Linked DNA regions of Homo sapiens. The protein of the gene in region 3 interacts with the protein of the main gene of each other region in a pairwise test. Each region holds a gene or a part of one and is shown on either strand. Other genes may lie near its edges. The genes, in order: PNISR, EIF4G3, PCNT, MYT1L, NIPBL, RRBP1 and CEP85L.

The links.
Region 1: the proteins of PCNT (region 3) and PNISR interact in a two-hybrid assay, tested with the Homo sapiens proteins (one large-scale study listed by BioGRID and IntAct).
Region 2: the proteins of PCNT (region 3) and EIF4G3 interact in a two-hybrid assay, tested with the Homo sapiens proteins (one large-scale study listed by BioGRID and IntAct).
Region 4: the proteins of PCNT (region 3) and MYT1L interact in a two-hybrid assay, tested with the Homo sapiens proteins (one large-scale study listed by BioGRID and IntAct).
Region 5: the proteins of PCNT (region 3) and NIPBL interact in a two-hybrid assay, tested with the Homo sapiens proteins (one large-scale study listed by BioGRID and IntAct).
Region 6: the proteins of PCNT (region 3) and RRBP1 interact in a two-hybrid assay, tested with the Homo sapiens proteins (one large-scale study listed by BioGRID and IntAct).
Region 7: the proteins of PCNT (region 3) and CEP85L interact in a two-hybrid assay, tested with the Homo sapiens proteins (one large-scale study listed by BioGRID and IntAct).

Annotation. Positions count from the first base shown.
Region 1 is NC_000006.12:99,418,384-99,422,946, forward strand, and holds part of PNISR (arginine/serine-rich protein PNISR), read right to left. Parts: intron 1-4,563.
Region 2 is NC_000001.11:20,939,398-20,942,897, reverse strand, and holds part of EIF4G3 (eukaryotic translation initiation factor 4 gamma 3), read left to right. Parts: intron 1-567; coding exon 568-1,407; intron 1,408-1,502; coding exon of another isoform or gene 1,503-1,522; exon of another isoform or gene 1,523-1,654; intron 1,655-3,500. UniProt on the Homo sapiens protein: Component of the protein complex eIF4F, which is involved in the recognition of the mRNA cap, ATP-dependent unwinding of 5'-terminal secondary structure and recruitment of mRNA to the ribosome. Functional homolog of EIF4G1.
Region 3 is NC_000021.9:46,410,653-46,415,215, reverse strand, and holds part of PCNT (pericentrin), read right to left. Parts: intron 4,028-4,563; coding exon 3,149-4,027; intron 2,380-3,148; coding exon 2,224-2,379; intron 1-2,223. UniProt on the Homo sapiens protein: Integral component of the filamentous matrix of the centrosome involved in the initial establishment of organized microtubule arrays in both mitosis and meiosis. Plays a role, together with DISC1, in the microtubule network formation.
Region 4 is NC_000002.12:2,320,905-2,325,467, reverse strand, and holds part of MYT1L (myelin transcription factor 1-like protein), read left to right. Parts: exon of another isoform or gene 1-1,449; intron 1,450-4,563. UniProt on the Homo sapiens protein: Transcription factor that plays a key role in neuronal differentiation by specifically repressing expression of non-neuronal genes during neuron differentiation.
Region 5 is NC_000005.10:36,984,067-36,988,629, forward strand, and holds part of NIPBL (nipped-B-like protein), read left to right. Parts: intron 1-609; coding exon 610-2,235; intron 2,236-4,563. UniProt on the Homo sapiens protein: Plays an important role in the loading of the cohesin complex on to DNA. Forms a heterodimeric complex (also known as cohesin loading complex) with MAU2/SCC4 which mediates the loading of the cohesin complex onto chromatin.
Region 6 is NC_000020.11:17,657,703-17,662,265, forward strand, and holds part of RRBP1 (ribosome-binding protein 1), read right to left. Parts: intron 2,827-4,563; 5' UTR 2,806-2,826; coding exon 894-2,805; intron 1-893. UniProt on the Homo sapiens protein: Acts as a ribosome receptor and mediates interaction between the ribosome and the endoplasmic reticulum membrane.
Region 7 is NC_000006.12:118,469,541-118,474,103, forward strand, and holds part of CEP85L (centrosomal protein of 85 kDa-like), read right to left. Parts: intron 1,105-4,563; coding exon 997-1,104; intron 1-996. UniProt on the Homo sapiens protein: Plays an essential role in neuronal cell migration.

The DNA.
Region 1 (4,563 bases), on a different chromosome or scaffold from region 3:
CCTCAGCCTCCCAAAGTGCTGGGATTATAGGTGTGAACCACCGCACCCAGCTGAAGCTTTTATTAAAAAAAAAAAAAAAAGTTTTCCTATGAACAGAGGTTTTAATTTGCATATTTTCAAGGGTTTGATTTGTATCACCTATGATCATTTTTCTGTATGTTTAGAACAGCCACTTCTACTTTTGCTATATTTTTAGAAGCTTTTCTTCCCCAAAGTTTTGATGGAAGCTACTATTCAAGTAATATAATGTTTGGGACACTTAGGCTGAGAAAAATAGAAAAAAGATGTGAAATTGGGAAAAACAGAGCAGAATAAAAATACAGTAAAGAAGGTGATGGTAAGTTAAGGAAGTTAGAGGCTATTTATTAAAGCGCTTTAATTAAGTCTGGAGTTGAGAAACTTGATTTAGTTACAGAGGATGACTACTGGATGAGGGCACAGGTGGAACACCAAATGGTTAGTCTTTTTAAAAGACAATTTACTGGCTGGGCACGGTGGCTCACGCCTGTAATCCTAGCACTTTGGGAGGCTGAGGCAGGTGGATTACCTGAGGTCAGGAGTTCAGGACCAGCCTGGCTAACACGGTGAAACCCGTCTCTATTAAAAATACAAAAAAATTAGCCGGACATGGTGGCACTGGCCTGTAGTCCCAGCTACTCCGGAGGCTGAGGCAGGAGAACTGCTTGAACCCGGGAGGTGGAAGTCGCAGTGAGCTGAGATAGCACCACTGCCCTCCACCAGCCTGGGTGCCAGAGCGAGACTCCGTCTCAAAAAAAAAAAAAAAAAAAAAAAAAAAAAAAAAAAAAAGGGCAATTTACCATTATGGCATCTTAACAAAACGTACATGCACATCCCTCTGACCCAGCAATTCCACCGCAGGGTCCTAAACCATGAATGTGAATATTCATACCATAATTCAAAAATTGGCAGCATATTTTGTAACAGTAAACATCTGGTTTCAGTGACATTAAATTAAAGGCAAGTTAAATAAGTTAGAGTGAACCATACAGTTGATTCCTATTCAGCCATTAAAATGAATAAGGTAGACTGCTACATACTGGCATGTATTACCGTACAAACTGCATTAAGCGAAAAAAAGGGACTACAATCTGTCCCTTTTCTACAAAATTTTAATATAAGTCCAAATTTCATTTTCATGACCAGAGTTACCTGTTTTGGATAAGATTATCAAAATTTACTCTAAATCCTATAAGAAAATGAGATAGAGGACATTTGCCCAATGTCTCACAGTTGAAGAAGTTTGTGTAATTTGTACTGCCTGTACTAGTCATTATGGACTGTGTTCATTAGCTTCATTTGATTCTTTGTATCTTTAAAAATCTGTATTTTTTCTAAAAATACACATTGACAGAATAAAATAATTAAAAGAATACAGAAAAATATAAAATAAAGATTAAAAATACCTGATTCCTATTTCCAATTCCTAGAGCTTGGCAGTTTTGAGAAGATTTTGTAATTTAGTAATTTTCTATACATAACTGCATTCTTTTTTTTTTTTGAGATGGAGTCTCGCTTTGTTGCCCAGGCTGGAGTGCAGTGGTGCGATGTTGGCTCACTGCAAGCTCTGCCTCCCAGGCTCACACCATTCTCCTGCCTCAGCCTCCCGAGTAGCTGGGACTACAGGCGCCTGCTACCACGCCCGGCTAATTTTTTGTAGTTTAGTGGAGACAGGGTTTCACCCTGTTAGCCAGGATGGTCTCAATCTCCTGACCTCGTGATCCTCCCGCCTCAGTCCCCAAAGTGCTGGGATTACAGACGTGAGCTATCGCTCCCGGCCCATAACTGCATTCTTAAAAAGAAAAGGCCTCAAGTGGCATCATTTTTCATGCATTGGGCAAATGTTCTCTGTCTCATTTTCTTATATGATTTAGAGTAAATTTTGATAATCTTATCCAAAACAGGTAACTCTGGTCATGAAAACAAAATTTGCACTTACATTAAAATTTTGTAGAAAAGAGACAGATTGTAGTAAAGACTTGTTTTAAAACTAGGAAATACTTAAACTTTTATATATGTTTCAGCACATAGCACAATGCTTGATAAGGAGTTTCATTAACTATTGTTTAATTAAACAGTAAGATTACTAGTGATTTTATGGCAAGGATTTAGGAACACTACTCTTTCTTCCTTCATCTTCACCATAGTATCTTCACTACTAACAAATCCAACAAATGCAAAATCTAGAAAACAGAAGGAATACACAGGCACAACACACAGTAATCAATGGATACATATTTTAAATTTCACTATGGTTTAACAAAATAACATAACGTTGTACCATTAAAAATGACATTTACAAGTTGGTTTAAAAATGATTTGGAAAATGTTGATAATTTAAGGATGGGCATTTGCTACCCTCTTCTTTACCACTGTTTGAAAGCTTTCATTTAATAAGTTAAAGATGACATACAATAATACTTTTTATAGAGGGTCTGCATTAAATTTTCATGTTTTTGTCTTGGCTCAAACAAAAATCTTCTTTAGGGGAGAGAAAACATTTTATAATAATTTAAATTCTCCATAATGTTTTGTCCATGTTAAGTGGTTAAATATTTATAATTCACTGAAATGTTAGCAAGTAAATACATTAATGTTCAACCATGAAAATGACATTCCAATATTGCTACTGTGATTTTATAATATCAAAAATTGATTCCAATTTATTCACTCTTCCTTTAGACTTAATTTTAAAGCTTGTTAGGCTTGGGTTTTCAAGTTTGGAGAAATTTGATTAATGACGGGCAAGGCTGCAAGACTTTCCTAACAGTATTTCCCTTCATGTGGTAAAGTGAACTGCTATTTCCTTGGAAAACAAATGGGGTCTGGGAAGAACAGAAAGATGAATAACCAAGGTTTGTATCAGATCATCAAAGCCACCACACACTGCCGCAAAAAAATCAAGTGATAGCTATCACCAGTGTTATGGAATGAATTGTGTCCCCATCCAACAGATACACTGAAGTCCTAACTCCTGATACTTGTGAGTATCAAGTGATACTTGTGAGTATGTCCTTATTTGTAAATAGGGTCTTTGCAGATGTATTCAAATTACAGTGAGTTCATATTTGATTAGGAGGGACCTTATTAAAAAGGAGACATAAGACACTTACAGGGAGAATGTAACATGACCACAGTGGTACAGATTGGGAGTAGATGGCTCTATAAGCCAAGGAACATCAAGGATTGACAAGAACTACCAAAAGCTAGGAAGAGACAAGAATCCCCTACAAAGCCATTAGAGAGCATGCCCTACCAAAACCTCAATTTTACACTGTTAGCCTTCAGAACTGTGGAAGAATAAATTTCTGTTGTTTGAAATCAGCCAGTTTGTGGTAATTTGCTACAATATCCCTAGAAAACTAATACAACCAGAAATGGCCATCATCTATTTTATCCTTTTCTTAAATGTATCTATATTAGAACTTCATCGCTTTGAGGTCCTAAAACAACTTGTTTAAATGACAATCATTTATTTATTATTGAGAAATTCTCACTCTGTCGCCCAGGCTGGAATGCAGCAGTGTGATCTCGGCTTACGGCAACCTCCACCTCCCAGGTTCAAGCAATTCTCATGCCTCAGCCTCCCGAGTAGCTGGGACTACAGGTGCATGCCACCGCGCGAGGATAATGTTTGTATTTTTTAGTAGGGATGGAGTTTCACCATGTTGCCCAGGCTATCCTCAAACTTCTGGCCTCAATGATCCATCCTCCTCAGCCTCCCAAAGTGCTGGGACTACAGGCATGAGCCACCCCGTGTGGCCAAAATGACAATCATTAATATTTACAAAAGTCACTCAGAGACTGTGACAGAGATGGATGAGAATTAAAATGTGGTATTTTAAAGTCCTTGAGCATCAACTACAAAATCAAAGAGCTACAGAAACACATCTATCATTTGATGCATAGGATGAAATATTTCTCAAATCAACCACAAAGCTGAGAAGCCAGAAAATACAACAATCCTCTTCACCCCTGACATTTCAGTCTTACATGAGTTGACTGACCTCAAAGTCAAAAAAGAATTTATTTGTTTAATTCAGATTAGGTGGAAATGGCACTGGTAAAAATTAATCTTGTAATCATTCGAAATACGGAAAACAGAAATTTTGCTACTTTATGTGACATGCATTTTAGTATATACTGAAATACTTGCAGCTTGTAGCTCAAAAGACTATTTTAAAAGTGGAGGACAAGCATGGCGGCTCATGCCTGTAAACCCAGCACTTTGGCAGGCCAAGGTGGGTTCATCACTTGAGGCCAGGAATTCGAGACCAGCCTGGCCAACATGGCGAAACCTCCACTCTACTGAAAATACAGAAATTAGCTGGGCATGGTGGCATATACCTGTAGTCCCAGCTACTTAGCAGGCTGAGGCAGGAGAATCACTTGAACCCGGGAGGCAGGGGTTGCAATGAGCCAAGATTGTGCCACCACTGCACTCCGGTCTGGGAAACAGAGTGACACTCTGTCTCAAAAAAAAAAAAAAAAAAAAAAACTGGAGAATTGGAGAGTCGGTTATAAATACCCCCCCAATAATAATTT
Region 2 (3,500 bases), on a different chromosome or scaffold from region 3:
AGTAAATTTCATTAAATAAAATGTGATGCTTTATCTTGAGTTTTTATACAAGTAATACTTTTTAAAATAAAAATTATCTCCCCAAATACAAAAATATATAGAATAAAAAATAACATCAGTCCCTTTATAATAATTTAATTTTTAATTGTTTGCCCTTGTACTGTTTTGCCACTGTAATATATCCTTGGAAAAAAAGTTTTTTAGGGAACGAGAAGTGGTAGAAATGAAGGTTTTCCTACCTTAAAGAAAAGCCTCACTCTTAAACCAAGAATGGTTTAGCCTCAGTTTTGGTGAGCTTTTCAGTTGTATTCTTGATATATAATTTTTTGGTGAATAGATTCCTTCTCTTACTCCAAAACAGACTTTATGTATTGGATACCAAGTAAATAGTAGGTTTAAGTAAAAAAAGAAAAGAGACAATGTTTTTGGCATACCAGAATAAGTCTAATATATTGGTCTCTGTTCTGTTACCTGTAATTTAGGGTAAGACATTGAAAGAATTGGCCCAAGGCAATATGTAGTCTCTGATCCAAGAATTATTCTTAAAACTTATTTTTTTTTCCCCAGAGGAGAAGCCAAAACCAGATCCAGTGTTAAAGTCTCCTTCCCCAGTCCTTAGGCTAGTCCTCAGTGGAGAGAAGAAAGAACAAGAAGGCCAGACATCTGAAACTACTGCAATAGTATCCATAGCAGAGCTTCCTCTGCCTCCATCACCTACCACTGTTTCTTCTGTTGCTCGAAGTACAATTGCAGCCCCCACCTCTTCTGCTCTTAGTAGCCAACCAATATTCACCACTGCTATAGATGACAGATGTGAACTCTCATCCCCAAGAGAAGACACAATTCCTATACCCAGCCTCACATCTTGCACAGAAACATCAGACCCTTTACCAACAAATGAAAATGATGATGATATATGCAAGAAACCCTGTAGTGTAGCACCTAATGATATTCCACTGGTTTCTAGTACTAACCTAATTAATGAAATAAATGGAGTTAGCGAAAAATTATCAGCCACGGAGAGCATTGTGGAAATAGTAAAACAGGAAGTATTGCCATTGACTCTTGAATTGGAGATTCTCGAAAATCCCCCAGAAGAAATGAAACTGGAGTGTATCCCAGCTCCCATCACCCCTTCCACAGTTCCTTCCTTTCCTCCAACTCCTCCAACTCCTCCAGCTTCTCCTCCTCACACTCCAGTCATTGTTCCTGCTGCTGCCACTACTGTTAGTTCTCCGAGTGCTGCCATCACAGTCCAGAGAGTCCTAGAGGAGGACGAGAGCATAAGAACTTGCCTTAGTGAAGATGCAAAAGAGATTCAGAACAAAATAGAGGTAGAAGCAGATGGGCAAACAGAAGAGATTTTGGATTCTCAAAACTTAAATTCAAGAAGGAGCCCTGTCCCAGGTAAGCCATTCTGCCATTAATCTCGTGCTTGCTGAACATGAAGAAGAGGCAGTGTTTGAGTTATTTTTTAATTGGCTACTTTCCTTGACTTCCAGAAACATCGAATGAATGCTGAAATTCCTAGTCTGGTTTCTTCAGTGGTGTGTTTGTGTTTTAGTACAACCTGCAAAAGAGTTACTCCATTGTCTAAAAATGCAAATGAGAATTTCCAAATATACAAAATGCCTCCAAGGTATATGTCACGAAACATGTTGGGTTTTGTTGTTGTTGTTGTTGCTATTGCCTCATTCATATGAATTGGTTTCTCAATGCTTAATTTTGCTGCTTTGGGGCTAGAAAACAAAAAACCAGGATGGTCTATAGTCCCTAATTCTGTCTTCCTAGAATTTTAAAACCCAGTCAATCCTAAAGGAACTCTTCTATGCATGACCAGTTTTTAAATCTTGGATGTAGGAAGATAGCAATCAGAACATCAAAGGTTTATAACTATTTTTGAAAATATAATGCTGTTGTTGATTCACTTGCAGGTAAGCTTAACGTTCTCTCACTTTGCCTTTTGAAACAGTTTTATTTTTTGTGTACATTTTTACATGGTCATTAATATCCTTGGAGTATTATATTCTTCCCAGTTCAAATTATTTCTTTTTAATGTAGCATCACCTGGGACCTTAGGAACTAACCATTGGGTTATTGTAAGTTTAATCAAAAGTTATCTGAGGCTTATCAGCTATTCTAGGATAAGTTAGCCCATAGGAATATTGAAGTTTTGGCTTTGAACAATTCAGCACAGCCTATCTTCTGCAACATTGCCCTATGCTATATAATTTCCTTTCTCTGTGCCTGTCAGATTAAGTAATGCGTATGTAAATTGGGCTTTTTGATAAATGAGTGCTCCTCCAGCAGTTGATCCTTGACATGCAGTGAATAGGTTTTGGTCACCATCATCCTCAGTATTTTTGTCTATTTTGAGGTGTATAATAAGGAAATTTGACAAACCCAAAAGCTGATCCCTACTTTTGAGATGTGGCTTTTCTACCCAGCTCAGTTCTTGAGACAATTTCCTCATCAGTGTCTGTAAGAGGTGTCTGGCCTTTTGGAACTGCAGAACATCTTGTAGAACACCATGAGCCAGCACAGGAAAGAAAACAATGCAAGGCAATTGGAACAGTGAGAAATTTTTCATAAATCTTTGTAAATTACCTGTTTCCTCAACTATCTGGCTTCCATTGACATCAGTATTCATAGTGCCATCACTGTTTTAGGAAACTTGTTCCTTGGTGGAGAGATGACCTTAGACCTTGTTTTGTCAGTTACCCTTTAGAAAAACAGCCTTGGGGCCGGGTGCAGTGGCTCATGCCTGTAATCCCTGCACTTTGGGAGGCCGAGGTAGGTGGATTGCCTGAGCTCAGGAGTTCGAGACCAGCCTTGGCAACACAGTGAAACCCCATCTCCACTGACATACAAAAAAAATAGCCAGGCATGGCAGTGTGGGCCTGTAGTCCCAGCTACTCGGGAGGCTGAGGCAGGAGAATTGCTTGAACCTGGGAGGCAGAGGTTGCAGTGAGCCAAGATCGTGCCGCCACACTCCAGCCTGGGCAACAGATCGAGACTCCATCTCAAAAAAAAAAAAAAAAAAAAAAAAACTAAACAACTTGGTGTTGGTGTGGCTGTAGGTAAATGCCCTCCGAAGAAACACGTGTTTGTTGGAGAACAGTAATTTGTTTGACACTTCAATGTTCATTTTCATTTGTAGTGATACGATAGTTACAAAAATGAGAGAAACTAATGAACAAAAATGTTTTTAAAATGTAAAAGCAAAGAAAAACAAAACAATCATAGGAAATATAAGTTGAAGATACAAACCATACCTCAGAATTGAAATAAGTGTAAAGTGAAAAGACCATGCATCAAAATCATACTTCACTCATTTCTGACATATATTCTTTTTTTAAACATCAGTTTGCCACTTAGATGACCTGATATTGCAAGACAGTGCCCAGGGATGGATGGGCAAACAGAATTTTGGTTTAAATAATGTTCATACCATGGTACATTTGTTTGAAATGCAGATGCTCTCAATATTAGTATTGTGA
Region 3 (4,563 bases):
TCCTTCCCTGATTTCTGTGGAATTAAGAATCTTTCAGGCTCTAAACGCCAATGAGGTGCACGCAGTGTGGACCCAGGAACAGGCGGCACCTGCACTCATGCAAGAAACGTCCCAGCGACGTGCGGGACACTCACGAGGGCTGCGAGGGGCTCGGGTGAGCCCAGGTCTCAGCAGGCTTCAGCACCAAGCATGCTTCCGTGCCACCCTAGAGACCATAAAACACCTGCCCAGCACTTCTGGTGTTAGAGCCTCTGGGTTTCAGAGCCTGGAGGAGTAGTTGGGGCACATTTAGCAAACAGCAGGGAGGAGGGGGAGGAGGAAGAGCAGGGTGGGTGGCTGTGTGTCCAGCAGGAGGAGGGTAGGTGTCTGTGTGTCCAGGAGGAGGAGGAGCAGGGTGGGCGGCTGCATGTCCAGGAGGAGGAGAGTGGGCGGCTGTGTGTCCAGGAGGAGGGTGGGCGGCTGCGTGTCCAGGAGGAGGAGGGTGGGCAGCTGTGTGTCCAGGAGGAGGAGTGTGGGCAGCTGTGTGTCCAGGAGGAGGAGGAGGAGCAGGGTGGGTGGCTGCATGTCCAGGAGGAGGAGAGTGGGCGGCTGTGTGTCCAGGAGGAGGAGGAGGAGCAGGGTGGGCGGCTGCGTGTCCAGGAGGAGGAGGGTGGGCGGCTGCATGTCCAGGAGGAGGAGGAGGAGGAGCAGGGTGGGTGGTTGTGTGTCGAGAAGGAGGAGGAAGAGGAGAGTGGGCGGCTGTGTGTCCAGGAGGAGGAGGGTGGGCGACTGTGTCCAGGAGGAGGAGGAGGAGGAGGGTGGACAGATGTGTGTCCCAGAGGAGAAGGAGGAGAAGGGTGGGTGGCTGTGTGTCCAGGGAGGCTGCGCTGGGCCTTGGACTGGAGGAGGCGAGGTGCAGACAGTGCATCAAAAGGTGCCATCTAAGGCTGGGCGTGGTGGCTCACGCCTGTAATCCCAGCACTTCGGGAGGCTGAGGAGGGTGGATCACCTAAGGTCAAGAGTTCAAGACCAGCCTGGCCAACATGGTGAAACCCCGTCTCTACTAAAAATACAAAAATCAGCTGGGTGTGGTGGCGCATGCCTGCAGTCCCAGCTACTCGGGAGGCTGAGGCTGCAGAATCACTTGAACTCGGGAGGCAGAGGTTGCAGTGAGCTGAGATCGTGCCACTGCACTCCAGCCTGGGCGACAGAGCAAGACTCTGTCTCAAAAAAAAAAAAAAAGAGAGAAAAAAAATAAAGGTGCCATCTGCACCTGATGCGGCCTGAGGAGAGGGCAGCTCCTGCGCAGGTGTTTCCTAGGGGCACTGGGGACCTGCCCCTGGTGCACTGGGTGGGAGAAGCACCAGCACCCGCTTTTCTCGCTAAATCTCCACCCTGCTACAATTTGAGATGGTCAAGGTGCAACCTCCTTCCCCGGGGAAAAGAAGTGCCAGCTTTTTTTCAAGTGACAATATGGAGTGAGGTGAACAGATTACAAGAATAAATCTGAGGCCTTTCAAAGTAAAACAGACGCTGGCCATCAAAGTCCTGAGCTGAGGTGAGGCCCACGGGGGCGATGTGGTCCTCCCATGAAAAGACAAACCAGGACTAACCCTCGAGCACAGTTAAATCCATTTGGATCAATTACAAGAAAAAAACCCAACTGATTGTTTCTACAGAGTGGCTTAAATGAAGCACGTACGAAATTTCACAACAGTTATGGACAGCTCGTTACAGAACAGAAAGGATTCAGAGAACATGTCACTGCAGGCACGGACTGTGCTCCTCACCTCAGCAGAATACCCGCCTCTGCCCAGGGCAAGACCCACATGTTCTGCACCCAGCCTCTCCCAGGGGGGCCTCACGCCTTCCCCCCTCCCCACACCTTGCTGCCGCGTGTCCAGCCTCTCCCGGGTGGGCCTCGTGCCTTCCCCGTTCCCCACACCTTGCTGCCGCGTGTCCAGCCTCTCCCAGGGGGGCCTCACGCCTTCCCCCTCCCCACACCTTGCTGCTGCGTGTCCAGCCTCTCCCGGGTGGGCCTCGTGCCTTCCCCGCTCCCCACACCTTGCTGCCGCGTGTCCAGCCTCTCCCGGGTGGGCCTCGTGCCTTCCCCGCTCCCCACACCTTGCTGCCGCGTGTCCAGCCTCTCCCGGGTGGGCCTCGTGCCTTCCCCGCTCCCCACACCTTGCTGCCGCGTGTCCAGCCTCTCCCGGGGGGACCTCGCGCCTTCCCCCCTCCCCACACCTTGCCGCCGTCCTCCAGACTCAGGCGCATTTCATTTTTCACCAAGAGCAGCTCCGACTGCAGCTGCCTCTGGCAGACGGTGAGCACTGACATCACGCCTTCTTGCTTGCAGAGAGGTGCATCCTTCAACGTCACCAGGACAGGCTGCAGATCACCCTTGACAGAGGAGACAGAGGAAAGCTGAGCATGCAGGAGGCTGTTGCTGGGGCTGCCCCTCAGGTGGCCTGGAGCTGGGAACCAGTACGGCAGCCAGCAGGGATGCCAGAGGGAGGTGGCAGTGACATCCACAGCCGAGCACCTTGGTCCACAGCAGGCCACATGGGAACGGGGCTGAGGACCCAGCAGAAAGCTGCCCCGACCCAGGACGACCCCACAGAGCAAGGTGGACTGGGGCATCTGAGAGTGGGAGCCACTCTACAAAGACCCAGCTGGTGTGGGGGTGGTAGGCACCAAGTTCCCAAGGTTCTGCTCAAATACAAGTGGAAGCCTTAAAAGACGACTCCCTACAGGGCCTCCAGCTCCAAAAGAAGAGCTCGCTCGCCACATCTCACACAGGCACTGCTCATCGACAGACAAACCATTTGGTTAGAAACCAGAGAAGCAGCTTAAGCGGACCCTCCTCACATAGTGAGCTCCGTTTCACTGGACAGTCCCTATTATGTGAAAGAAAGAATTGTTTTTAAAAGCTTAAAACGATAAGCTTAAAATGGTACAAAACAGTGAAATCCTCAGCCCAGCTTCACTGCGTACTGACACGGAACAGGCCCAGGCTGGCCCGAGCTTCAGGCCCCCTTTCTCCGCTGTGTCATGAGCCACCATGACAACTGCAGCCCCCAGTGCCCAGCGCAGAGAGAAGTCATTGACATCAAAGGAGAAAAGGAGAGTAAAAAAAAATACCCTGCCATGGCCCGCGGGGGGAGCCCACCTGTGGGTCAGGGACAACCGGCTCCAAAGCAGCATCATGGGAGGCCTCCACGTCGCCGGTGACCTGGGCCTTGGCGCCACCATCCATGCGAGGCTGTGGGTGGGCCCCGGGCACCCGTGTGTGAGCTGTGGCTCTGCGGGCCTGCCGCCTGTCCAGCTCCACCTGGCACCTCAGGAACCGCTGGTGCAGCACCTGCAGCTGGCGGCTGAGGCGGGCACACTGCGCTCGGAGCCACTGCAGCTCGGGAGGCGCCGCCCCGGCTGCCAGGGGCTGCTGCTCCAGGGCGCGGCGGATGCGGGCCAAGGCCAACAGGACGGCCTCCAGCTCGGCAGAGTGGGCCGCCTTCCGCTGGTTCAGAGCGTCGATTTCTAAATTTCTCTCGGCAATCGTCGCTTCCTTTGCTTTCAGGGCCGCTTCGAACTCCTGGATCCGGGAGGCCATGTCTTCGACCTCAGCCTCCCTGAGGGCTACATTGCGCTCCAGCTCAGCCAGCTGTAGCTCCGCAGCCTCCTCTGCGCCCTGGAGGCGCTGCTGCAGGGCCTCCAGGGCCTGGCTGTGCCTGCGCTCCTGGTCAGCCAGCAGCCGGCTCAGGGCCTCCTTGGCTTCCAGCGCAGCCTCGAGCTCGCCCTGTAGGGCCTGCCCACGAGGGCCCCCGGCCTGGGAGCAGAGCAGCTCGCTCTGCAGACTGCCAGCCTGACTGTCGCTGACTTCGTGCACCACAGGCCCCATGAGGGACAGCTCGTGCTGCAGCTTCTCAATGACTTCATGGAGTTGTTCAATTTCCTCTGCTTTCTCCTTTTGTAATCGTTTCTGATTCTCTTGCAGATTTTCAATAGTGGCTTTCAGCTCTTCAATCTCAGAACTTCTGGTATATATGACCTGAAGAGAGAGGACATTTCAGAGGCAAATTAAATGTATCCACTTCCGAATGTCCCTACTTCAGGGCACGTTACATCCTGAATGCATTCTTGGAGTGAAGACTCCATAGCGTGAAAAACAAAGCAGCCATAGAAGCAAACTGCTGGTGCCGGATGCACTCCACACCCACCTTGGCTGCCACTGGGCCCTGGTGCACACCTTGTGCTCCACGTCTGATCGTGGGACGAAGCTCTAATGCAGTCATTTTCCATGCAAGGACATCTACAGAATGATGCTTTCACCACCCTTTAAATGTTATTTTGTTAATATTTAAACAACTTTGATTTGTTTGATTTTCCTGAAGGTGCATTAGATTTTAGGTGTCATTCTGACTCCAGGAGGAAAGTAAGAAACCTAGGCAGAGAATCTGCACCAACAAAGCGGTGAGCCGGGCACGCTCCCCTTCCATCCCAACACTGCTCGTGGTGACGCTGGTGATGAGGCGTCTCTGCCACTGCCACTCGGTGACACCAGGCATCGAAGTGAGTTTACTTGTG
Region 4 (4,563 bases), on a different chromosome or scaffold from region 3:
TTCAAAGAAAACTTTTTCTATATTTTTTTCTTCAAACAATAATAAAAGGTGAAAAATGTTTTAACTTTCTTAGACAAGTAGTTTCATAGCTTTTGTTTTAAAAGAAAACGATGCAAGAAGCTCATACTGAAACAGAATAATATAGTGAGGTTGGCAACCCGAAAACGATTTTAAGAATTGGTTAGAGTTAACTCTTGTGTCACCATTCTTTTATTTTAAGAAGTGACAGGTTTTGGAACCTCTTTTTGTTTTGCTTGGATGTTAACCAGCAATGCCATCTAAAATACTGTAGGTTCAGCTTACTTCTGTGAGGTTTCTTTGGCCACAGCATGAATTTACCATAACATCAATGATACGAGAGATATTTTTAGATATATTGCCTAGCTGGTAGCTGCTAACAGCCTGACTCCGGTATTTACAGTTCTCATCTATTACATTAAATACAGCACTGCTCATGATACACATTCTGCTCTAGAGATTTAGGGGCCTGTGGGTACAAGGCAAGCAGCATACTGCACACATCTCCACTCGTGTCTGACTGTGTTGCAAGCTTGATACACAGGAAGGTTAGAAATTACTGGTTTAATCCACAGCTGTAGCTTGAAAAATATCTAGATCAGCAGTGAAGTTCCCTCCCACCTTAGGATTTGGGGAAGTGGATATGTTTTGTGTTGCTTCAAGGAGGCAGCCTGAGACAGGGTAAGTCAGCAGGATGCTTCCGAGGCTCTTCTGCTGCAGCGATGTGGTCTCTAAGGGAGCGTGAGCCTGATGCACGCAGCACAGGCGGGACTCGCAGCCCGGCGCTGTCTGTCTGCTGCCTTTTGATGGAGGCTGCACTTCACCCGCCCGGCAGAGCGCTGTACGCATGCCCGTCTTCCCTGTCGTTTAGTGGTGTCAACTTATTAATTTCCATCTTCGACTTCAGGCCTGTTAGTTTCCTGTCTGAAAGCATTATTACTTTTGTCCATGTGGCAAAATAATTAGCATACAGATGAGAAGTGGCCCCTTGCCTGGGCGCCGGTAGAGAGAGAAGATGTGCAGTGGAAAGTTGATTGGATGAATGGAGAACAAATGGTGGGCGTTCAAAAGCATTAGAAGAGTTTTGTAGTCGTGGAGCAGGTTGGAGAATTTTCTGGGTGAGTCCCTAAGATGGAAGGCAGGGGTGGCTGCCGTGGGAACAACTGCTTGTCAGACGCTGGCTTAGCCGAAGGTGCCAAGTGCGGCTGTAGGCACAGATAATTCATTGGGACGACTTTGTTTTGCAAGTCTTGAGGCTGCTCTTTGATATCCCCTCCAGGTAAATATGTCCTGTGCTCCCTGTCTTCACCAGAGCATTTGTTCCACTTCCCAAAGTGGAGCAAAGTTGAACTCCTGATGGTCAGTAACAAAAGAATAGTCATTTGCTGCCGGTTTGGGGTAGCGGCTTGATCCGTCTTCGTGTGCATGTGCCTGAAGTGGAAATTAACTGTTTAGAGATGACTGTTTTTAGAAACTTACAGCAGCCATTATTCAATGTGTTTAATTAATATTTTCTGAAACCGTGCATCGAGACCAGCAAAATTAGCAAATGTTGTTTCAATTAAAGCCCAGACATAATTAGTTTTGACTAGTATGTATTTTTCCTAGCTGGAAGATGATTTTAGCTAATTTAACCAGCAACTTACTGGAGATTGTGAAAATTGAACTGAAGTTTCTATTGATCTGTAGAATCTACAACTAGGAAATGTGGAAATTAGCACACAGTGATACTCTGAGTTCTTTTCAGAAAAATGGAGATCATTTTTGCAAATCAGTCTTCTGAGTTGAGAAGTAAGAATAAAGAGCCTGCTGGAATCCTAATTTTCTATTGTCATCAGTGACACATTTCTTATATAATTCTGTGACTGTACTACTGCAATATGGGTGTTTTAATATTTAGTTAATTATACTTCCATGGTAGGAATTCACTGATAAATAGTTCTATCCTGTTTTAATAATTCCTATTCTCCCGAAAAGGCAAGGTTTTTCATTTTAACTGACCTAATTATTTCACCTGCTTTTTAGGTAGAACTCAAGTAGAAATTGTTATTCTTTAACTGTCTTTTTATAGATTCCTGAATATTTTAGATCACTTGATTTTATTTTGCTTTCATTTTAAGCTTTTTTTCTAAAGAGTTGCTTTACTTTAGCTGTTTGCTTTAAACAATAACAGTGAATATTTGACAGAAAATACAACTTTTGGGGGGAGGGGAAAATTTTCTGTTTAAAAAAATATATCTTTTCAAAAAAGAAAGAAACCACCTTTAATGAATCTAAACCTCAAACACAAGATATTTAAAAACATATTAACCCTTCATGTGAAGCTGCTGAAACTTGCTTTTGATCATTTTCCCTCTCATTCTGCAAGTTTCTTAGTACTCACATTGAGCTTTTTCTGCATAATAGGTAAATTATCTATTGTTTTTTCAATGTGTGTGTGTTTATACACACAGACACATTTCTTTTTCTATTTCATTTTTAAATTTGCTGGTAAACTAGAATGAAGAAAAAAATTGAGTTTTTAAAAATTTAACTCAAGCAGTTTTAAATATCAGATTGTTTTCAAGCAGATTCATGAAATCTTACCTAGAGAAAAGTCATAAAGTCATAGTTCCATTATTTTCTCATTGCTACATTTCATTTTAGAGTTGAACCAAGCTTTATATGATTAATATAGCTGCTTTTAGCTTTATGATGGTGGTTTATAACTTTCTTGGGGCAAAATATCAGCATTTACTTTTTAACCTCACCTTGTGCATTTCTATGCAGAGATCCCTGAAAGCCCCTTCTCCACGATGCTCTTTGTGCCTGGCTGCCTTCAAAGGTGGAGCCCAGCTATTTTGTTTTTTTTTTTTTAGGGTCAAAATTGTGTCATATTAGTCTCCACTTCACGGAGCCCCGCGTGCCACTCTCCGTCACATTTGTTCTCAGGCTGTGGAGCAGGCTCACGGGCAAAGACAATGAAAGGTCCCAGGACTGGAAACAGGGTGATGTGCACCTGTCTGAAAAGGTGATTTCTAAGGGAATTTTTCCCTGTCTAGTTGCACTTTAAGGTTGAGTGTCAACTTTGGAAAGAAAAGCAGCCTTTCATGGCAAAATTTTTAATCAATTGTTGTGATTCCAAGATATTAGTCCAAAGATGAAGTGCTCTTTGACTTAAGTACCCTGTGTAGGCAACATTGGACAGTGTGGGGCGTCTGCTGTCTCAGTGGGCCTGCTCTGCTCACCGAAGCCATAGAGGGCATTGCTTTGGTGGGGTTTCCACTGATTGTGAAAGAAAAAAAAAAAACAGGTAAATATTTTTTATTCAAAAGGTTATTTGACTCTATTCCTTTTAAAATTCAGTACTGTCATGTATTTTCACACTCTTAGGAGTACTATAATTCCCCTCTTCCATGATTTTGTGAGTGCGTGTATATGTGTATTTTTTAAATGCCAGTGTGAAAATGTGTGTAAGCTGACAATATTTGAGCCATAGGGTTAGTATGTGTGCCATGTAAACCTGCTTTAGATGTGTTTGTGCACTCATTAATATAGTTGAAAGAACTTTAGGACTCAATATTACATACTGACTGCTTTTTACTGAAGTCTGACTGTTTACATAGAACACTCCAATTTCTTTAAAGAAAATTACCTCAAGGATATCGGGCACTTGCTTGAGAAATTTTCAAGTGTGGAATGTCAGGTTTAGGACTCTAAATCAAACAACTCATGAATTAATAATTTATGGGGGTCTTTTTTTTTAGTACATTGACAAAGATTTTCATTATAGGATTTCTAGCTCAAACACTGTTCTGAGTGGTGCCTTCATGCCGTTATCTCAACCTAAATGCATAGTGTGTTTTAATGGCCCTCAACAGAATGGTTTTTCAAAAGTCGGCATCACCTCTTGACTCCAGGGGCTACCACACCACTGAACCCTAAAAGCAATAAACCATTCTTAAGGGCTTACTTTAAATTCGGCCCAACCTCCCCTCCCTGGTGCACGAATTCCACCAGCCTGTGCCATCTGAACAGAAGCTGAAAGCACAGAGCATTGTCGCCATGAAACAATGCTAGCCAGACTGGTTGTAGAAATAAGCGAGTCTGCAGGGCACCCCATAGAGAGCCATCAAACCGAGTCTGCTCTGGAGCTGCCTGGTAGATTGTGAACATTCGGAAATCAGTGCCGCATCTGCCGGTGGACCCTGTGCTTCTCTGAAACTCCCACCTGCCCTAATGCATCTGGGCAAGAGCTTTTCAGAATCCAGTTTCCTCCAGGATAAATTTAATATGTCTTGAGGGCCAGGCACAGGCAAATTGATTCTATCTCTGCACCAGAAGAACTCATCAACATCTGTAAGAACACAGATTTTCAACAACCCCAGGATTAGGGGATGCTATTTTGTAAAATATATTCCAAGCCTACTCCCTTCATACCTCATGCCAGCATGGCATTTTTTAATTAGGAAGTTGATTAAAAAGGGCATGGTAGACCACGGATGTATGGTCTCCTGGCATCCATCCAGCTGTTTGTTGTCTGGGTCGTGGAAAGCGTTGCTCATC
Region 5 (4,563 bases), on a different chromosome or scaffold from region 3:
TTTAACACTTCAAAGAATTTGAATTATTGATTAAAGTTAAATGACAAATTATTAAATTCTTTTTTTAAATTCATTTTTTCCCAATGGCATGGTATATATTTTCTTTCTTTTTTTTCCATACTTATCTTAGATACAGTAAAAACTTATATTTCCTGTTTGGTATATTGGCAGATTTGGAGCTCTTTATGGTTTTTGGCTAACAGTTAAAAGTAACCTGAGTGAGACTTTATGATTTGTAACTGGTTGCTTTATTATTAGGAAAAGAATCTGATTTATCCGTGACATCTATGAACATAAATATATGTTTGTATTTGGTACATTATAAGTTCTATTCATTTTATATTCTTACACTTATTTATATCCTTAAAGAGTATGCAGTTAAATTCTTTTTACTATATTTATTGAGATCTCTCAAGCATATTTCTTCAAACCTTACCTTTCAAAGTATTGTGTCATTCATGCTTACTATTTTATGTGTACATATTTGCATTTGCATTTTACTCCATTTTAAAAACATAACCTTAAAAAGATAAACAACGTCCATAGGGTTTTTAATAAGATAAGAATACATGTCTATTACTGATATTGATATTTATCTTTAAATTTCAGATAAGCCTTTGAAAAAAAGAAAACAAGATTCTTACCCACAGGAGGCTGGGGGTGCTACAGGAGGTAATAGACCAGCTTCTCAGGAGACGGGTTCTACGGGAAATGGGTCAAGGCCAGCATTAATGGTTAGCATTGATCTTCATCAGGCAGGAAGAGTGGACTCTCAGGCTTCTATAACTCAGGATTCAGACTCCATAAAAAAGCCTGAAGAAATCAAACAATGTAATGATGCACCTGTTTCTGTTCTTCAGGAAGATATTGTTGGAAGTCTTAAATCTACACCAGAAAACCATCCTGAGACACCTAAAAAAAAGTCTGATCCTGAGCTTTCAAAGAGTGAAATGAAACAAAGTGAAAGTAGATTAGCAGAATCTAAACCAAATGAAAACCGATTGGTGGAGACAAAATCAAGTGAAAATAAGTTAGAAACTAAAGTTGAGACCCAAACAGAAGAACTTAAACAGAATGAGAGCAGAACAACTGAATGCAAACAAAACGAGAGCACCATAGTTGAGCCTAAACAAAATGAAAATAGACTGTCTGACACAAAACCAAATGACAACAAACAAAATAATGGCAGATCAGAAACAACAAAATCAAGGCCTGAAACCCCAAAGCAAAAGGGTGAAAGCCGGCCTGAGACTCCAAAACAAAAGAGTGATGGGCATCCTGAAACCCCAAAACAGAAGGGTGATGGAAGGCCTGAAACTCCAAAGCAAAAAGGTGAGAGCCGCCCTGAAACTCCAAAGCAAAAAAATGAAGGGCGACCTGAAACACCAAAACACAGGCATGACAATAGGAGGGATTCTGGAAAGCCATCTACAGAGAAAAAACCTGAAGTGTCTAAACATAAACAAGATACTAAATCTGACTCACCTCGGTTAAAATCAGAACGAGCTGAAGCCTTAAAGCAGAGACCTGATGGGCGATCTGTTTCTGAGTCACTAAGACGTGACCATGATAATAAACAAAAATCAGATGACAGGGGTGAATCAGAGCGACATCGAGGGGATCAGTCTAGGGTTCGAAGACCAGAAACATTGAGATCCTCTAGTAGAAATGAACATGGCATTAAATCTGATAGTTCAAAAACTGATAAACTAGAACGAAAACACAGGCATGAATCAGGGGACTCAAGGGAAAGACCATCTTCTGGGGAACAAAAATCAAGACCTGACAGTCCTCGTGTTAAACAAGGAGATTCTAATAAATCAAGATCTGATAAACTTGGTTTTAAATCACCAACTAGTAAAGATGACAAAAGGACAGAGGGTAACAAGAGTAAAGTAGACACTAATAAAGCACACCCTGACAATAAGGCAGAATTTCCAAGTTATTTGTTGGGGGGCAGGTCTGGTGCGTTGAAAAATTTTGTCATTCCGAAAATCAAGAGGGATAAAGATGGCAATGTTACTCAGGAGACAAAGAAAATGGAAATGAAAGGAGAGCCGAAAGACAAAGTAGAAAAAATAGGATTAGTTGAAGATCTAAATAAAGGAGCTAAGCCTGTAGTTGTGCTACAAAAACTGTCTTTGGATGATGTTCAGAAACTTATTAAAGATAGAGAGGACAAATCAAGAAGTTCCCTTAAACCTATCAAGAATAAACCATCAAAGTCAAATAAAGGTAAGAATACTTCTACTGATGTCATTTATAATATAATCGATTTTAAGTGTTAAGATTACTAAGTTTTAAAAAGGAAATTTACAAAAATTAGAAAGCTACTACATGAAAATATAACATTTATGTCAAACAACAGGAAATTTTTTTCAGGAGTATAGATAAAAAGTTTCCAGTGAATTTTTTTTTCCCCACAGTTTTTTTCTTCCCACCCACTACTCAAGGTAGTTATGAATGTTACTGCTATTTGGTTACACAGAGATAAGTTATTTTGCTGTTTAGTTATTTCTTATATTTCTGAAATATGCTTAAGTGAATGTTGTATTAAAATAGCTGTCTTTAAAAACTCTCTATTTAAAAATGTCTTACAATACTACATTCTTACAGACCTGTGTCTGAGCCAATTATTGATGAATAATTTGTATAGTTTAGAAAGTTATATAAAAGGTTATTTTTCATTTTGTTGGGGAGATGGTTAGTTAAATATGTTTTATATTTTTAAAACATATCTTTTTGTCCTTGTTTATGCAAAGGTAATAGGGAATGGTACTTACTTTTTAAATTTGGTTAAATTGTAAGTTTGTGGGAGGCGGGGGACTGGTGTTATTTTTGCATGGTTTCTGAATTCTCTGGTTACTTGAGTAAAATTATTTCCAAAGGGAGAAGAATGTCTTAAGTGCCAAAAGATAATGGCCATTTGTGCAGAAGATATACTTCTGTATCCCTTTGTACACAAGTATTTAAAATAACTTTTTTTATTTTTAAATAGAGATGGGGTCTTGCTTTGTTGACCAGGCTGGTTTCGAACTCCTGGCCTCAAGTGATCCTCTCCTCTCAGCCTCCCAAAGTGCTGGGATTACAGGCGTGAGCCACCGTGTCCATACAGTCTAAATATACTGAGGTGTAGTGAAGGCAATAGAACTGAGAGTTTATTTAAGTTTTCCTTCTGTGAAAGAGAATTATTAAGAATTTAGATTTATACTTATATATAACCAAGTATATGAAATCTGGAATTGCATTGGCCAAGAGGGTAACCATTGCCTTTTTTGGCTATTTAAATTTAAGTTAACTAAAATTGGAAGTTCATTTCATTAGTAGTCACATGTGGCTGTTGGCTACCATATTGGACAAAACAGAACATTTGCATCATCACAAAGTTGTATAGCACTGCAGTGTATTAGGAGATACAAAAAGTGTGTGGTTATTGTTTTTCATAACATGCTGTTGTAGCTTGTCTACCAAGAAAGCTCTTTGAAAACATATTATAAAGAACTCTTTATTCAAAGAATGACTTGTGGCTAATCTGTTGTTATTCTTGCTTGGTCTTCGTCAACATTCATTTTTTCACTGTTAATTTATTTCCTTTTGTCTTACAATAATGAAAAAAGATTGCCTTCTGAGTCGCTAATATTTGTGTTCTTTGAGTGAAGCTTTTAAATTTTAAATTATGGCAATTAGACTTACCAAAAGTCAGTTAAGACATCAGCCTTAATTAATAAGTAGGCTTTTTTATTTAACTTGAATGCATCTTTTCAGAGTTACTTGTTAATATAAAAGAGGTTGTAGAATGTGGGGGTTAACACCACAATTGTTTTCTTTTAGGTAAAAATTTTCTTTAAAATTTTTTAGTGAAAGTTTGGGAGTAGCTTATATTTATAAACTAAAGAGTATGGCTATACAATTTTAGAAGAGTCAGGTGAAAGATGGAAAGTGGTACCCTCTTGTTCCTTTGATCTGGACCATCTTTCTCTCCCTCCCCTCTCAGCTTACCCTAGCCTTGCTTTCTAAACTCTGTTCTAACAAAGAGTCTTTTAAAACTCCTTAAAGAACATCCAGAAGTGAATATAGCTTTTAGTTAGTAATTGGTATATTATTTCACCTGGGTTTTTCACATGCAATAATATTGCCTATGAATATGTTTTTAGCACCAAAATGCGTTTCTGATAGTATACTTTTAATGCAGATGTATATACCTGATATGGTCATGTTAGTATGTAAGTAAGCTATCTGGGTGTCTGCCTATTAGAGTGATGTGTGTGTATGTGTACATGTGCATGTTTGTGTATATATACACATATATTAATGTAACTGCAATTACAGTAACAGTCCTTTTCATCAAAAAATACTATGTCAGTGCTTAGATGCATTTCAGGATGCCGTGTAGCTATCTTTTGGATTAATTTATTTATGTCTTAGGATCCATATCTTTTTTTTTTAGTAATGATCCAATTTTGGTTTTGTTTTAGATTTTTGCTACTCAGTTTAAATAGCAGAGTTGGGTAATTGTGGATTTTTTAAAATTGCATGTATATGAAGCACAGTTGTAGATTACTG
Region 6 (4,563 bases), on a different chromosome or scaffold from region 3:
AATTTCTACAGTAATATACACTAAACAGATAAAGGTAAACCAGTGCTTCATATGATCACATATATATCTATGTAATCCAGTGTTTATGTTAATGCTCTATAATGCTTTACCAAATGACTAGGGTGGCGCAGGGGAAGGAGAAGGCAGAAGAGGAAAGAATGCAACTGCTCCTTAAAAACACCTTCCTACCATCATTCACTCAACAAGCACAGATACCCGAGTCAGGCTGCACAAAAGCATCAGGTGAGGCAAGAACATCGAACAGGCTGACAGAACGCAGCCAGACAGTTAAGAAAGACTTGCCAACACGCAGAACTCTTCTACACTGTGTGGTGGACAGAATTATTGCTCCTAATTCCTCACCTCTCCTTGTGCTCCCATATGTTTAAGACATGCCAAGACACGGACCTGTTGCTCACTCCTCACCTCTCCTTTCTCACATCACCTTGCAGTCCCTTCTCCCTGGACACAGTGGACTCCCTGCCCCTTGACTCAGGCTCAGACACATCACTTGATCTGGTCAATGAAATGCTGACTTGAAATGCCCTTTTGTGCCTCTGTTGTAACTATGAAGGGCCTCTGCCCTGGAGGGCGCCAGAAGGACCACACATGGAACTGACCTGAGCTCAACCTGTAGCAAAGAGTCACCAACCCAGTTAAAACCAGATTGAGGCAGAGCCACCAACCGAGAAAGCTCACATCTGCCAACCTCCAGAAGCATGAGCAACAATAAATGACTGCTGTTGAAGGCCACTGAATTTTTTTTTGAATGTTTGTTACGCAGCCTTATTATGACAATAGCTGACTGATACAGGTGGCACTCCCCGAGAGAATCCATAAGTCATTTAAAGACAGCCTTTCCTTCTAAGTTCATAAAGAAATCAGTTACTTACCAGGCTCACCTTTTTTCTTTGAACCAGACTTCTTCTTGGCAGGAGCCTCTTGCTTTGGTGCCTCTGGGCTCTGGGCCACATCTGTATTTCTGCCCTGGACAGAAGCTGACTCTGTCTTTTTACCCTGATTGGCAGCTGCGTCTGCCTTTTTGCCTTGGTTGGGGGACCCTTCTGCCTTTTTGCCTTCACTGGGGGACCCTTCTGCTTTTTTCCCCTGGTTTGTAATACCCTCTACCTTTGTGCCCTGATTAGCAACCGAATCTGCCTTTTTGCCCTGGATGGGAGCTCCCTCTCCTTTTTTGCCTTGGTTGGGACTCCTTTCTGCCTTTTTGCCCTGAGCCCCTTCTGTCTTTTTACCCTGATTCTGGGCTCCCTCTCCTTTTTGGCCCTGGTTCTGGGCTCCCTCGGCCTTTTTGCCCTGGTTCTGAGCCCCCTCGGCCTTCTTGCCCTGGTTCTGGGCCCCCTCAGCCTTCTTGCCCTGGTTCTGGGCCCCTTCTACTTTTTTGCCCTGGTTCTGAGCACCCTCGGCCTTCTTGCCCTGGTTCTGGGCCCCCTCGGCCTTCTTGCCCTGGTTCTGGGCCCCCTCGGCCTTCTTGCCCTGGTTCTGGGCCCCCTCGGCCTTCTTGCCCTGGTTCTGGGCCCCCTCGGCCTTTTTGCCCTGATTCTGGGCCCCCTCGGCCTTTTTGCCCTGGTTCTGGGCACCCTCAGCCTTCTTGCCCTGGTTCTGGGCCCCTTCTACTTTTTTGCCCTGGTTCTGAGCCCCCTCGGCCTTTTTGCCCTGGTTCTGAGCCCCCTCAGCCTTCTTGCCCTGATTCTGGGCCCCCTCGGCCTTCTTGCCCTGATTCTGGGCCCCCTCGGCCTTCTTGCCCTGATTCTGGGCCCCCTCGGCCTTCTTGCCCTGATTCTGGGCCCCCTCGGCCTTCTTGCCCTGGTTCTGGGCCCCCTCTCCCTTTTTGCCCTGATTCTGGGCCCCCTCTGCCTTTTTGCCCTGGTTCTGGGCCCCTTCTACCTTTTTGGCCTGGTTCTGAGCCCCCTCGGCCTTTCTGCCCTGGGTTGGGGCCCCCTCCACCTTTTTCCCCTGGTTTGGGGTTGTATCTACCTTTTTACCCTGGTTCTGGGCCCCCTCCGCCTTTTTGCCTTGGTTTGGGGTTCCTTCTGCCTTTTTGCCTTGGTTTGGGGTTCCCTCTGCCTTTTTCCCTTGGTTTGGGGTTCCCTCTGTCTTTTTGCCCTGGTTTGGGGTTCCCTCTGCCTTTCTGCCCTGGTTTGGGGCTCCTTCAGCCTTTTTGCTTTGATTCTGAGTCCCCTCCGCCTTTTTGCCCTGAGTAGTGCCAGTGGCTGGTGTGTTGCCCTTGGCACCCACTGGGGGCACCACCACCATCGGCACCTCCTTGGGAGCAGTTTCCAAGATGGCAGCCTTCGAAGTGAGAACCTGGATGGAATTCACTACAGAGCTGACAGCTGGTTCCACTTTTGCCACTTTTTTCTCCTTCTTCTTTTTGTCCTTGGGGGAGGAGGCCAGCTTCTCCTGGGGCATGGCTGGAACTGTGGCGACAGGAGCAACGATAATGGGGGGCTGCACTGGGGTTGGAGCCACAGCCACAGCAGGAGCCCGCACTGGTTCTCGAAGGAGGACAGTCACATTGGGGGCTGGATCATGATCAGGTATCTTCCCATTAGGTTTCTCTTCCTTTTTCTTGGTCTTTCCTTTCTTCTCCACTGTTTTCTCCTTCTTTTTCTTCTCGACTTTCTGGTGGTGAGTTTTCGCCATCTCCTTGCGCTGGTTGGCTAGGGCTTCTTCATATGACGTTTCCTTCATGGAGAAAGTCGACACCAGGAAGATGCCAATGGCAGAAACAACCATGAATCCTCCAAAGACCACAACCCCCAAGGTTTGAGTGTCGTAAATATCCATCCTGGCTTGCTTTCCTTTCACCTGTCAAACATACATGGAGGTTACTATTTATAGAAATCAAGGCCTTCAACAGTTTCTATCCCCACCCTACCACCAAACTTCAGGTTTCACTAATTCTTTCTTCAGGCTAATAAATTCAGAGAAGAAACAAACCCAGGCACTCTCTGATGTCCCACATTCTCACCTGCTCCTCTTTAGGAGTGAGCGATTCGTACCCAAGGCATGAGCAGTCCCCATACAAAGCAACAGCAGAGTCAGAGCAGAGTGGAGGCCTATCTCTGGAGCACACACGCCCAGGAGCCTCAGCAGCCATGACCCTGATGCAAGATATTCCCCACCCAAGGTCAAAGATGCACAGGAGCACAAACACAGGCCAGGTGTGAGACCATGGGGAGTGGTGGAGACTGTAGTAAAAACACCCGCCCCCACCTAAAATTAGACAGTGACACTCTGTCATGGCCGATTGCCCTAGAAATGTGATTGCTGAGTTGGAAGATGTTTTGATTTTTCATGTTAGGCCAGACACTTTTAAAAAATTTTTCTCTCAACGTGAAATTGACTGATTTAAAAAATATGTGAACCGAACCAAACCAAACACATCTGCAGGCTTTCAGCCACAAGCATTTTAGCCAGCAGGCCCACAGTGTGCCATCTCCACTCTGTTGTTTCCCTCTTCCCCAGTGCCAATAAATGCTGCTACCCAGGATCAGAGATAAAAACTTCTGCATTACAATCCTGAAACGTGTTCAAAAATTCAGTGAGGGAAAATAGCCTTTTGCCAGCAATAGCTCCTGAGGAGTTATGGAGCCTGCAATTTGCATGTTGGGAAACAGGAAGAATCAGTCTTGGGAGGCCCAGAAGATGCCAGGTTTGGAATTTCACATCCAGAAGCTGCACAGAGGGTGAGGAGACAGTGTCAGCAGGCCCCTCTGTCAGACAACACTCCCCAAACCATAAGAATGAACAACACCATTCTCACTGCCTATGGACCAAAGTCCAATGGGTCAGAGGCATCCAGGTTCATACACCTTCCTGCCACAGCCCGGGCTAAGTTCGACTTCACTGAGGAACTCCAGGAGGTGTATTTATTTGGATACATTCAAGCCAGTCCCGAGTCTCTCTAAAGAAGATCGATGGAATGAGCAAAGAGAACACAAGGGTAAGAAGGGGTGGTTAAGGGGAGGTAAAAGGAGGTGGAAGAGGAGAGGAGGGGAAGTGGACAGGCCTCCCCCAGCATTGCCCTGCAAAACCTCTAGATGCTGTGGGAGACTGGGTCCAGGCTGCTTAGTGGCTCAGATACTGAGATTCTTCTCCTAAGACATTGAGATCCCCACTCCTCTTGAGTGGTTATAGAGGAAGGAAACAGAGTAGGAATCAAATCCAAATTTTGACATGAGGGCATTTTAAAGAAGGGACTGAGAAGGGAGACTGTTTTCAATGTCTTGGCATTGTGTTCTAAGAAAAATCACTCTCGGCCGGGCGCGGTGGCTCACGCCTGTAATCCCAGCACTTTGGGAGGCCAAGGCAGGCAGATCACGAGGTCAGGAGATCGAGACCATCCTGGCTAACACGGTGAAACCCTGACTCTACTAAAAATACAAAAAACTTAGCCAGGCGTGGCGGCGGGTGCCTGTAGTCCAGGCTACTCGGGAGGCTGAGGCAGGAGAATGGGATGAACCTGGGAGGTGGAGCTTGCAGTGAGCCAAGATCGCGCCACTGCACTCTAGCCTGGGCGACAGAGCGAGACTCCGTCTCAAA
Region 7 (4,563 bases), on a different chromosome or scaffold from region 3:
GAGGAAACATAAATCCAGTCTCAGTTTCTAGGAGTCTCTCACGTAATAAGCATGTTGGTTGTGTATGTATTTTTCTTTTTTGGGCCTCAATCTGTCACCCAGGCTGGAGTACAGTGGCGCAATCATGACTCACTACTGCAGCCTTGACCTCCTCGGGCTCTGGTGATCCTCCCACCTCAGCCTCCTGAATATCTGGGACCACAGGTAAACACCATGATGCCTGGCTAATTTTTGCATTTTTTGTAGAGAGAGGGTTTTGTCACATTGCCTAAGCTGGTCTCAAACTCCTGGGGTGAAGTGATCTGCCCACCTCAGGTTCCCAAAACAAAGTATTAGGATTACAGGTGTGAGCCACCATACCCAGCCTGTATTTTTCTATAATGAGATTTATTCCAAGGATAAAAAGAACTAAAAAGTAACTTTGAACCTCACTCTGTGGTTTTTATTGTTAGTAGCAATAGTGGTTTAATTACTTTGAAACTACTTTTTGCATATTGGTGGGGGGAAGCATCTATGTTAATGTTGATAGGAACCACAAACTTCGGTGCGAGAGACAAAGAAATAACAAGTATAAAATCAAAGAAGAAGAAAAAAAGAAAAAACCAACAACTCTGAATTGCTGATCCCCAAAACTGCTACCTTCTTATCTTGAAAACTGCTAATTAAAGGTAACTTTAATTAGCTTTCCAATTGGAACTGTATTTCAGAATAACTCAATAGCCTGGGGTGATTGGAAAAAAACTTTTTTATAGATGAATGCCAGCTAATAAATATAATAAATATATACTGTACTATAATTATGTGAAACTGTATTCTAAAACACAAAATAAATAAAGGTTTGTCTTTTTATAATAATTTTGGTAAGAAACAATGGAATTAATTAACAGGCATATCAAAATCATGTCTTTAATCTGAAAATGCTCTATTAATATCTATAAAATAAGCATTTTATAGTGAATCATCCTTTCAAAGCAAAATTGAATTTCTTCTACTCACTTCAAGCAATGCTTTTGTTAATCTCTGTACATTTCTTTCTTTCTTTTCCAGCTCTTCCATCATCTTTTGAGTGGTCAGTTTCTCTTTAGAAAGCTTTCCTTGCATAGACTAGAATTTTTAAAAAAATTGGAAAGCAAAACAGGTTAACATGTAAAGAAAAATCTCAAACAGAAAGAAGTAGGAATGTTGGCTCTGAATACTTTAAATCTTCTTTCCTCCCCATCCCCTTGGAAGATGAAGCCTTCACTTTTAAACTAATCCCTATCAGTTAGAGAGTGGCTGAATCCAAATAAAAAAGAAAAAGAAATGCTGGTTTCCCAGAATACATTTGGATTTTTTTAAATTACAGTTTTTACCAAGGAAGTTTTTAATTTGTATAAAACATGTCAAATCTGAAGTTCCTACTTAATATGGTATTACAAACAGTTCTTATTTCATTAACTTTTTATATGTAGAGAGTGTATTAGCAACAAATCTATATTTTTGTTTTACATTTTGCTTACAGTTAATGAGATGCAAGATAATAAGATCATGATATCATCCCTATTTTCTATCATTTGAAACATAGCTCCCGTCTTTCATTGTATAGTAATCCAAGCAGTGAATATACTGTGAACTCTGGGTCAAAGGTCTATTATGGGAATTTGATAAGCTAATCTCCTTCTTACTCCTTATAAAATTGCAAATTACCTAGACATGACACTATTGTGAGTACGCCAAAGCAGCATAAAGGACATTTTGAGTCTTTGGTTAGTCTTTTCACCAATATATTAAAAGAAAAAATTGCCATACACCCTGTAGTTATTAGTGAATTCTAAGTGTTTCTATCAACTATTTTCCTTTTATTAGACCACAAAATCAATAAACATATGACCAGAAGAGAGGTTATCATTTTATTTCAGGTCTGTATTTAGTCTCAATTCTGACAATACTTCAGTTTGCTGACCACCTAAATAGCACACAATCTACTATAAAGATATTTTCCTCACATTATCTTTGGATGGAGTAAAAAAAGATAGCTATCACCATGGGTTGAAATAAGACTCCATAAATATAAAGCAGTTTTATCAGTAACAGATACTCAAACTTGTTGCTTTTAAATTTCATTTGTCTGCTAAACTCTGAAAAAAATATTACATTTAGTAACTCAGAAGTTGGACAGAAATGAATCAAACTCTATAACAAGTGTTTCTCCTTCTAGGGAAAAGTTGTTTTATATTCCACAAAAATGAAAAAAAAAAAAGCACCAAGTCAACAAGGGGCTCTCTGAATACGTGTATTATTGAAAACTGAAATTTCCTTTGTAACTTCATTAGATTGACTCAAATCTTATTTGATTAAATGAACATGGAGAGTTATTTACCTAGCTGAAGATCTATCCTTTCTGGCCTAACAAGATTATTTGGCTGGAATCCAGAATTCAACCTAAATTTTCTCAAGATTTGTGACGGTTTATTAGAATTACAGAAGAAGGGCATCATAGACACACTACTCAAACTCACATTCTAACAAAAAAAAAACTAAACTCGAGGGGTGTTTTCACAATATAATTATTATATATAACAGAATAATTATAATAATGATACATTGTAACAGAATACAGTCCTTTAAAAGATAAGAGTTTTATATTTTTACCAATTCAGAGTCATGTTGAATGTGACTAATAATTAGCTAATAAATCCAACTAATATGTCCCTATGTAAGACTGATTTTAATCAGTGCAGAAACAGGCAATCTTCTCCATCAGAAAAACTGAAAATGTCTGGCAGTATTGCCATTTATCACAAAAAGGAAAATCAGATTTCTCATATGTTGCTTGAGTTGAAGGGCAGTTATCAAGAAGCACTTTAATAGGTAAAAGACATTGCAGATAGGCTTATCCTGAAAGGACCAAGTGCTGTACAAATTGGTCTAGGATAATACTAGGTATGAGTGCTATAGTTGTCTGACAGTAACATTTCACCTAAAACATTAATTACTTCTCTATCCTAAATTGTATTAAGATATGTTTAAAAGATAACAAGAAAAATTCTATCAAGAATACTGTGCGTTATTTTATAAATACTTTTTGCAGAGCATTTTTTTGAAATCTCTTAAGCTCTTAAAATATACTTGCTCAAACTGGTAGTACTTTACAATGCATAAATGAAATATCTCATATTTTCTGAAACGAGTGTTTGGCCTTGTGAATTTTACAATAACTATTTATCATTCACTAGACATGTAGGGGATTAATAAAATTAAAAATTAATTTGCAAACACCTACAACAGCTCTCAAATTCTCAGTTTAATCATGACATTTAAAAATTCTGCCAAGGTACTAACCTACAAGGTCTTTATAATGATCATGTTTGAAGTTGAACAGTGGAAATAAGCACATTTGTTGTTTTAACGTAAGTATCCAGAAATGCCCCATTTACAAATAGCTTGAATGAGGGAAAACCAGGTGTGCCTTAGTCCAGATTCTATATAATCCCCAAACCCAATTTAAAAGGAACTATTTTGAAAGAAAATTTATGTTAACATTTTTACTGCATATATACACACATAAACATGCATACCATATAAGAAATTCACAGGGACATTCCTTCATGCAAAAATCATTGCCAAACACTGTTCTGTTCATTGAGTGATACATCAGTGAACAAACAGTCAAAACTCTTGGCCTTTGTGGAACTTTACTAGGAGAAAAAAGACCAAAAGAAATAAAATAAATATGCAAGTTACACAGTATCATGTATTAGAATTTGACTAGTGCTGTGGAGAACAGAGCACAGTAAGGGTCAGGAGACTGAAATCTCAGGTAAGCAAGGGCCTGAAGGAAGTGAGAGATTGTGTCCCAGAGATATCCAGAGTTCCTATCAGTACAAAGGTTCTGGGACAGATGGTGTCTTCTGTGTTTGAGAAAAAGCAAGAGAGCCAGGATGGCTGAGAATAGTAGGAGAAAGAGTCAGAGAAGGAAGACAGCATGCAGAACAGATTGTATAGGGCCTCAGAAATCAGTATAAGAACTTTGATTTTTATTCTGGAAAAAAAAAATGAGGATCCACTGAAGAGTTCTGAGCAGAGACATGATGTAATCTGATTTTTGTTCAAAAGGATCACTTAACCTAATGAGAGTATACTGTGCACAGGCAAGGGTAGAAGCATGAAGAAATAACCCAGATGAGAAAGGGAGACAGCTTGGAACAGGGTGGCAATGGAGGAGGCAAGGAGAAGAGGTCAGATTCTAGACATACTTTCAAGGTAGTAGAATTTGCTGTCAAATGTGAGGTAAGTGAGGAGTCAAGGATAAATCTAGGATACCTGGACTGAACAAATGGAAGGGCAGAGATGCCATTAATAGGAAATCTGAAATGTATAGCAGGGTGTTTATTTTGGTGGTGGGGAGATAAGAAATAAAAAAAAGAGCCTTTTTTAATGTTTCTAAGAATCTAAGACAATGTACAGCTCGAATTCCTTTCTTAAATTAGTTATCATCTTGTAACTTGATAAAACTTTAAAAACAATCTGCCTGGAGTTTTGCTTCTAGCATGACAGTGTGAGGAGCTCCACAGACCTACCACT